2 separate regions of the Homo sapiens genome follow, and region 2 is linked to region 1. A link means that fine-mapping ties the variant in region 1 to the expression of a gene that starts in the linked region. Tissue or cell type: whole blood. Region 1 holds a variant in brackets; the other region holds the start of a gene. All regions are shown on one strand. Distances are from middle to middle.

The links. PIP is the estimated chance that this variant, and not a neighbour inherited with it, causes the effect.
Region 2: AGO4 starts here. The variant in region 1 is the best candidate, but not a certain one, in a credible set for the expression of AGO4 in whole blood (INTERVAL, PIP 0.52).

Annotation. Positions count from the first base shown.
Region 1 is chr1:35,709,011-35,713,399 of GRCh38, reverse strand. No RefSeq gene overlaps it. Among named protein-coding and RNA genes, the nearest start is that of C1orf216, 7.7 kb to the left of the region's middle. The variant G/T (reference allele first, on the strand shown) is at 1,889.
Region 2 is chr1:35,806,437-35,810,825 of GRCh38, reverse strand. AGO4 (argonaute RISC component 4) reads right to left here and starts at 2,810. Exons shown (of 18, transcript NM_017629.4): 1 at 2,391-2,810. The coding sequence starts at 2,409. CLSPN-DT (CLSPN divergent transcript) reads right to left here. Exons shown (of 3, transcript NR_199050.1): 3 at 3,886-4,081. RefSeq lists enhancers at 1,758-2,037, 3,137-3,636 and silencers at 2,188-2,437, 2,718-2,927.

The DNA of each region.
Region 1 (4,389 bases):
CTGTAATCCCAGCTACTCAGTAGGCTGAGGCAGGAGAGTCGCTTGAACCTGGGAGGCAGAGGTTGCAGTGGGCAGAGATCGTGCCACTGCATTCCAGTCCGGGCAACAAGAGGGAAACTCCATCTCAAAAAACCAAATAAAACAAAAAATAAAACACCAAGTACCCTGGTGTCATCACTTCCCTGAAGGGCGCTCTGACTATGACTATGATTTCGGGTCCTTAGATGGTTTTGACACACATGTAGTTATAATATACAGTCATCCTTTGTTATCTGAGGGGATTGGTTCCAGGATCCCCAGGGATACCAAAATTCACAAATCTGAAATACTGTATTTTATTTTTATTTGATTTGATTCTTTATTTTTGGAGACAGCGTCTCCAAGATACGCCCAAGCTAGAGCATAGTGGTGCAATCATAGCTCACTGTACCCTTGAACTTCTGGGCTCAAGTGATCCTCCCACCTTAGCCTCTGAGTAGCTGGGACTACAGGCACACACCACCACACCCAGCTAATTCTTAAGTTTTTTGTAGTGATGGCTTCTTGCTATATTGCCCAGGCTGGTCTCAAACTCCTGGCTTCAAGCCATCCTCCCACCTGAGCCTCCCAAAGTGCTGGGATTACAGGTGTGAGCCACTGCGCCTGGCCAACATTTTTATTTTATTTTATTTTATTTTATTATTATTATTTTTTTGAGACGGAGTCTCACTGTGTTGCCCAAGCTGGAGTGCAGTGGCGCGATCTCGGCTCACTGCAAGCTCCGCCTTCCGGGTTCACACCATTCTCCTGCCTAAGCCTCACGAGTAGGTGGGACTACAGGCGCCCGCCACCGCGCCCAGCTAATTTTTTGTATTTTTAGTAGAGACAGGGTTTCACTGTGGTCTCAATATCCTGACCTCGTGATCTGCCCGCCTCGGCCTCCCAAAGTGCTGGGAGCCACTGTGCCTGGCAACATATTTATTTTAAACTTCACAAAGTATACTTCTCACTGAAACAGTTAATAATTCTTGTCATCTCCACACTTGACACTTAAACAGAAATAGTATTGAACCAATTTTTACAAATTCCACTTACTAAGAGATGTTTTGGCAAAGGGCTAAGGCTAAATTTGAATGGAGATTTCTGACAATAAGATGTCTGTCAAACCTTCAGAGCATAAGAGGGTGAATTTTTATAAGGAGCCTTTTTTTTTGGAGACAGTCTCACTCTGTTGCCCAGGCTGGAGTGCAGTGGTGTGATCTTGGCTCACTGCAACCTCCACCTCCTGGGTTCAAGCCATTCTCCTACCTCAGCCTCCCAAGCAGCTGGGACTACAGGCACATGCCACCACGCTTGGCTAATTTTTTGTATTTTTAGTAGAGATGGGTTTTTGCCATGTTGCCCAGGCTGGTCTCAAACTCCTGAGCTCGGGCAATCGGCCCACCTCAGCCTCCCAAAGTGCTGGGATTACAGACATGAGCCACCATGCCCGGCCAGGAGCCCCTTTTCTAAATGTGTGAGGGCTCTTTTGAACACAGCCCCTGGTGAAGGACAGAGACCCTGAAGCCAGACACCCTGGATTTGGACCTTGTCCCCATTGTTTTATGTTTTTGTGACCTTGGGCAAGTCAATTAACTTTTCTGTGCTTTAGTTTCCTCATCTTAAAATGGGAATAATAGTAATAACTACTTCGCAGGGTTGCTGCAAGGATTAAATATGTAATATATAGAAGACTTAGAATTGTACCTGACACATAGTAAGTTACATTAATGAATTATGATTATTATAAATCATACTTTTTTGGTACATACAGCTTTTTCATAGAAAAACATTTTTTCTTATGAAATTGGAATCTAAAAAAATTTTTTTTTTTTTTGAGACAGGGTCTGGCTCTGTCGCCCAGGCTGGA[G/T]TGTAGTGGTGTGATCTTGGCTCACTGCAACCTCCGCCTCCTGGGTTTGAGCAATTCTCATGCCTCAGCCTCCCGAGTAGCTGGGATTACAGGTATGCACCACCACGCCTGGCTAATTTTTTTGTATGTTTGGTAAAGATGGGGTTTTACCATGTTGGCCAGGCTGGTCTCTAATTCCTGGCCTCAAGTGATCCGCCTCAGCCTCCCCACCTGCTGGGATTACAGGTGTGAGCCATCGCACCTGGCTGAATCTAAAATTTGAATGTCATCTTTAAAGGGGAAGGGGACTTCTAAAAAATAAAGCTGCCTAATATTCCTTTCCAGAAAAGAACTCTTTGAGCTGAGAAAAAGAAGAAGGTGAGACCAAGGGAATGTGTGGTGAATTGTATGTTTACAGGACCCCTGCCAGTCACTGAAGGTCAGGGACTCCCCGGGGGATGATGGGTTTGGGAAGGAGATTGGCAAGAATAGAGCCACAGCCCAGGACGGCAGAGTTAGGGGCAGGGAAACGGAGGCAGGACTCCAGTGGCTGAACCAACTCAGCCAAGAATTGTGGTTCTCCATCAGGTCCACTGGCCACGAGGCCTAATCATGGGAAGTGCTAAGGTGACCACAGTACCTCCCATAGGCAGATCTGAGCTACACTCTCTATACTCAGTTTCCTCACCTGTGGCAACTATAAGGGCTGAATGAGGAAATGGACGTGAAGATGCTCTGTATGGATTAAGAAGATTGTGTGCCTCCCCTGCATGAGGCCCTGAGGAGCCTGCTCTTGTCTTTGAGAGCTGTGGTGTGCACAGGTAGATGAGACTTGCATCCAAAAGCCTAATGCAGGCTGGGCACAGTGGCTCATGTTTGTAATCCCAACACTTTGGGAGGTTGAGGCAGTAGGATGGCTTGAGCCAAGAGTTTAAGACTCCATCCCTACAAAAAGGGAAAAAAAATTAGTCAGTCATGGTGGTACATGCCTGTGGTCCTAGCCACTCAGGAGCCTGAGGCTGGAGGATCACTTCAGCCCAGGAATTTGAAGCTGCAGTGAGCTATGATCCCACCACTGCACTGAAGCCTGGGTGAGAGAGCAAGACCCTGTCTCAACCCCCTCCCCAACAAAAAGACCCCAAAAGCCTAATGCACAAGCCACTCGTAACCTAGGAGAGGGGAATGCAGGACTGGCTGTCTGTCTAGTTTTCAGTCAGGGACTTCTATACGTGGTTGTTGTCTTAAAGTCATTGGGCCAGGTGCGGTGGCTCATGCCTATAATCCCAGCATTTTGGGAGGCTGTGGCGGGTGGATCATTTGAGGTCAGGAGTTCGAGACCAGCTTGGCCAACATGGTGAGACCCTGTCTCTATGAAAAATATAAAAATCAGCTGGGCATGATAGTACATGCCTGTAATCCCAGCTACTCGGGAGGCTGAGGCAGGAGAATTGCTTGAATCTGGGAGGTGGAGGTTGCAGTGAGCCAAGATCGTGCCGCTGCACTCCAGCCTGGGTGACAGAGTGAGACTGTCTCAAAAAAAAAAAAAAAAAAAAAAGTCATTGGGGTAGGAATTCCTTAGTCCGTGGGACAGTGAGGGGAGTAGGAAAGGTTCATGCACTTGGTAGGAGTTTGGCCAGTCAGCTACCTCCACCCCTTCACCTCTCTCACCAGAATAAAATCCCAAGGAAGTCTAACCTAGGTTTTGGGTGCGACATGAGTCATCTTGCTTAGTAGGAGACATAGGGATGAGATTGGAGCAGAGACCCAGAGACCAACACGGGCAGGGCACACAGCAGAGGCCTGAGTAGGCTGCAGGTACAGGATGGAAAGCATGGAAGGGATTAGCAGAGAGGCCTGTGAGGCTGGGTGCACTGAGAACTTGCTTGCTCTCCAGGGACACCAACTAGGTCAGCCCCATCAAGTATGGTCAGAGTAAATGGGGTTAAAGCCTGAGTGCAGGGAGGCAGAAAATGAACTGGGAACTGAGTAAGAGGGTAAAGCATTAGAAGACTGCAGAAAAAGGCTTCAGAATATCATAGGTGGGCTCCCCGGTGGGGGATCTGGCTTGTTAGGGCTCTGTATAATGGCTATCTCTAAGGAGACTGACTGCCCCATGATGGCAGCCTGTGACCTGTCTACCTGCCTCTTAGCCTTCAAGCCTCACCGGAAACCCTGTGTAGGTAGGTTTGCTCCTACTCTCAGCATGAACAGGTGACAGGAACAGGAGAGAGGCGAGATCTGTAAGGGCCTGGTCAAGGAAGGCTTCCTGGAGGAAGAGGAGCTTGGAGACCCAGTAGAAGTGGAGGCAACAGAGGATAGTGATTTCTAGTGCAGAGTGGACCCAGGTGTCTTGGATCCTCCACTTCTTACTTGTGCCTCACTTTTCTCAACTGTAGAATGGGAACAATGGGAGTACTTCTCTTACAGGGTTACTTGAGAGTTAAATAAGTTAACAGATGTTAAGGGCTTAGACCTGAGCCTGCCTGGCTCACAGGAAGTAGTCTACAAATGTTAATTGTTTT
Region 2 (4,389 bases), 97 kb before region 1:
TGACAAAGTCAGATAACTGCATTCTCTGAAAGGGCAACTGATATGACAACATAGAACAGATGAAGTCAGCCTTAATGAAGAGGAGATGATTAGATTAGAAGTCAAATGACCCAAACTCAGGTCTTTATTTCACCACTTGACCCTTTGAAACCCTAATGAAGTCACTTCATCCTCTCTGAACCTCACTTTTCTCATCTGTAAAATGGAATAACTACCTGCCCTGCCTACCTCCCAGAGGATCAAATGAGCTAATAGTCATAAAAGCACTTTACAAACTATAAAGTACTGCAAACAACATATTACCAAAATAAGTGGAAATCTAATTAATTATATTTCTGAGTATTGGCAGAAACTGAACTAGGTTGCAGGGAGGCGGTGGGCAGGGAGGGATAGAACAAGACTAGAAGGCTTCAGGGACTGTTCAAGTGAGGAGGGCACAAAGCACTAGATCCAGGTGTGCTCTGCCAAAGAAGCAGGGATGATTCTCTAGGTTCTAAAACAGCCTGGATGAATCATCCCACAAGACGATCAACTCCCTTTGCTCTGATTCTATGCTTAGCAGGCAGCTACTTATTAGTTGGGTTTCCAAGGTACTGCAACACCAAAAAAGGAGTTTGCTAGAGAGCAGACAGGAAAATATTCCACTCAACAGAAAAGATCCATGTGACATTTTGGCTTATTCATTAGTGTCTTATAAATGTGGTTAGTGAGAATTAATTTTCCACAATCTGAACAATCCTGAGTGAACCACTAAGTCCTCAAACCTGCAAAAGCTAAAATCAAAACAAAAAAAAAAAAGAGTCCCTGGGCAGTGCCTAATATCACCAGGTTGATCCTTTCCATGAAATTCAGTTTATGCCCACAGTTACACAATTTCTTTCGATATCAGATCATAAATGCAACAGTTGTTTCAATTATGAATTACTAGGGGGAGGGAAGAAACATCTGTTGAGCATCTATAGGCACTAGTCTCTACAATAAGACTTATCATATACTCTCATTTCATTCTCTCAACAATCTTACAGAACATACTTATTATTACCCTCAATTTATAGACGAGAAAATGAAAGTTCAAAGGAATTGAGTAATTTTCCCAGGGTCATACAACTATTACATTACTAGATTGAATCTGTTACATTCCTAAAGACCTGAGCATGTCTTTAGCCAGGGGACATATCTGAAGTTAACCTGGCATAATACACTGAAGTTTATCAAACAATATTAATGCGGCAAGCCAATTTATTTTTAAAAGGCATATGAAATTTGATTATGAGGGCCTTTAAACAATACTTTAAGAAGCAAATTAGGGTGGGGCTTAATCACTCAGCTATGCAAACAAGTGCTAAGTAAACAAACGTGCCAAGTTTCCAAACTCAAATGGCAACTCGAATTTTCTACGCACTAAAAAGATGAAACACTCTACGACTAAGTTCATTATGTAGGTAAAGTTTGAATATTAAAGTGAATTCCACCACAGCCCCTAAACACTGAGCTACTTAGCCAAGGCATTAGAAACCTGTTGGGCTTTGAGGTGGAAGCACCAGGCCCCAATACTCAGGACACTTGTTACAGCCTGGAATGGTTCTTCTGGTTTGGATAGAGAGAAATAACCAGAGGCCATCCATATCCACAACAAATTAGTTTCCAAAGCACTTTCTCCTTCATTTGATCCTCACAACCACTCATAACCCAATTAGAAGAGAACTCAGGGCATTGAAGCCTGTGGTGGAGCAGACTGACTGGCAACTCCTGTGTCACTCAAAGGCTGGCTCAGACCACTCTGAGACTAACACACAGACTGAGTGACAGAGGCACAGGACCATGTTCTTTGGGACATCAGGGCCTTTCAGAAAGGGTGGGCATTTTGTCCCTTGACCTTCAGAGATCATGAGAGGTGTTTGGATGAAGTTCTTCTTCCTCATCTGAAGGCTCTGGACCATCTGCCAGTGCAAAGAAAAATAGGGGCGCGGCCCCAAACCAGGACTACCGGCTGGTAGTAGGCAGCGGGGCCCTTTTCCCGGTCTGGGCCAGGCCTCCGCGCGCACTGGGTAGCGGATCGCCCCCTTCTGAGGCCCAAACTACCCTCGTCGCGACCCCGGGCACATATCGTCTCCCCGAGGTGGGGCCAAGAGTGGCCTCCGCCCGGCAGCGCCGGTCACCTTCCCGAACCTCCCCCCTGGACCTCGGGATCCACCCAACGGCCGGCTGGGGCGCGGTCACCGCCCCCCAGGCCCGGGTCAGCTCCCTCCGCTTCGTGCTGCGGGGCTCGGGTCCCCTTCCCCGAGGCCTGGCGGCCCGAACCCGGCGAGGCGACGGGGCAGCGAAAGTCCCGGCCGCCCGCCCCGGGTCCCGGGTCCCGGGTCCCGCCCCGACCCGAGCTCGCTCCTCACCGGGTCCCAGCGCCTCCATGGCGGCGGCGGGGGCCGCCTCGCCCCGGTCCCCGGCGCCTCCCGCTCCGGGCCCCGCCGCCGCCGCCGCCGCCGCCGCGTAACGCTTGATCTCCGGAATATTGGCGCTGGGGTGGCGCCGCGGAGACGCGGGCGCTGGGCAGGGGGCGGCGGCGGCGCCCGGCCCGGGGACAGGGACCCGGCTCCGGCTCTTCCGGCCTCAGCGACAACAAAAACAATCCCCGCCGCCGCCGCCGCCGCCGCCGCCAACGGGAGCGGGAGCGGGAGCCAGCGCGCGCGCCCGCCGGGAGGGAAGGGGGCGCGGGGTGCGCGGACCCAGGGTCCCGGCGGGCGGAGGGGGCGTGCGCGGCCCCGGGCGCGGGGTCCACAGAGCCCGGCAGGCGGCGAGGCGGGTCGGGGAACGAGCGCGCGCCCGGAGGGTGCAGAGCCCGGTGGACGTGTCGGGCACGCGCCCGCTGGCCCGCTCTGCCCCGTCCACCCGAGGAGGCCGTCCGGTGGCCAACGGCTCTGGGGGCTACGTGCCATCCCCCCAGGGCGTCCTGCAAAAGATCTGGATTCCAGTTCCGCTGACCCACAGATTCAGTTTTCCACTTCTGTGAGTGGAAAGTGTACTGAGATTCACAGGAGCCACCTCGCCTCCCTCCTCCCTCCTCCCACCCCAGATCGCTTCTGTCATCTCGTCTTTTAGGGTCACCTTAGACGCTAGCAGTCCTCCTTCATCCCTTCATTCAGCACCACACACCCAACTGCGCGTCCCTCTCCGTATAGCCGGAAGGCACCACGGGAATGGACCCTGATGAATGATGCATTCCCTCCCTGGTCCCATGACAAGCGCCTCTGGTCAGCAAATCACCAGTCACTTTAGAAGAGAAAGGTCTTGGCCGGGCGTGGTGGCTCACGCCTGTAATACCAGCACTTTGGGAGGCGGAGGCGGGTGGATCACCTGGGGTCAGGAGTTTGAGACCATCCTGGCCAACATGGCGGAAGCCCATCTCTACTAAAAACACAAAAAATTAGCCGGGCGTGGAGGCAGGCGCCTGTAATCCCAGCTACTTGGGAGGCTGAGGCAGGAGAATCGCTTGAACCCGGGAGGCAGAGGTTTCAGTGAGCCGAAATCGGGCCACTGCACTCCAGCCTGGGCGACAGAGCAAGACTGTCTGAAAAAAAAAAAATAAAAATAAAAGAGAGAGAGAGAGAGAAAGGTCTTGCTTTCTTGGATGCCTTCCCCTTAGCAGACAAAAGCCAAGGGAGCAGCACCACCTCCAAGGCAGCATGGTCAGCCCAGCAGGCACAGCATCTTTAGGGCTTTCAGTAAGGACTTTGAGTGGGAGAACACTGGACAACAGGCCAAGAAGCAGTTTCTAGTCAGCAGAAGGAAGGAGCCCCTTGTCCACCAATTGAAAAGGTACGATGAGTTTGTGTGTGTGTGTTGTATTCCTTTGCTACGGCATAACGTAACAAAGTACCACAGACTGGGTGGCTTAAACAACAGAAATTTATTTTCTCACAATTCTGGAGGCTGGCAGTCAGAGATACGATGTAGGCAGGGTTGGTTCCTTCTGAGGCCTATCTCCTTCACTTGGTAGATAGTGGCCTTCTCCCAGTGACTTCACGTGGTCTTCCCTCTGTGCACGTCTGTGTCCAAATTTCCTCTTCTTATAAGGACAGCAGTCCTATTAGAGTAGGGCTCACTCTAGTGACCTCGTTTTAATTTAATTACCTCTTCAGAGACCCTGTTTCCAATTACAGTCACATCCTGGGGTGCTAGAGTTAGGACTTCAATATACAAATTATTGGGGTGGGGGATAATTTAGGCCCCTAGCATGTGTGGTGGGATATTCATTTGAGCACCTGCCATGTGCTGTCACAGAGCCAGGTAGTTTTTTTATGTAATGATAAAAAATATTAGCATCACATCCTGGCCATGCACTCTGCTATGGGCTTCTCATTGTCACTCAATCTTTACAACCACCAGTAAGGT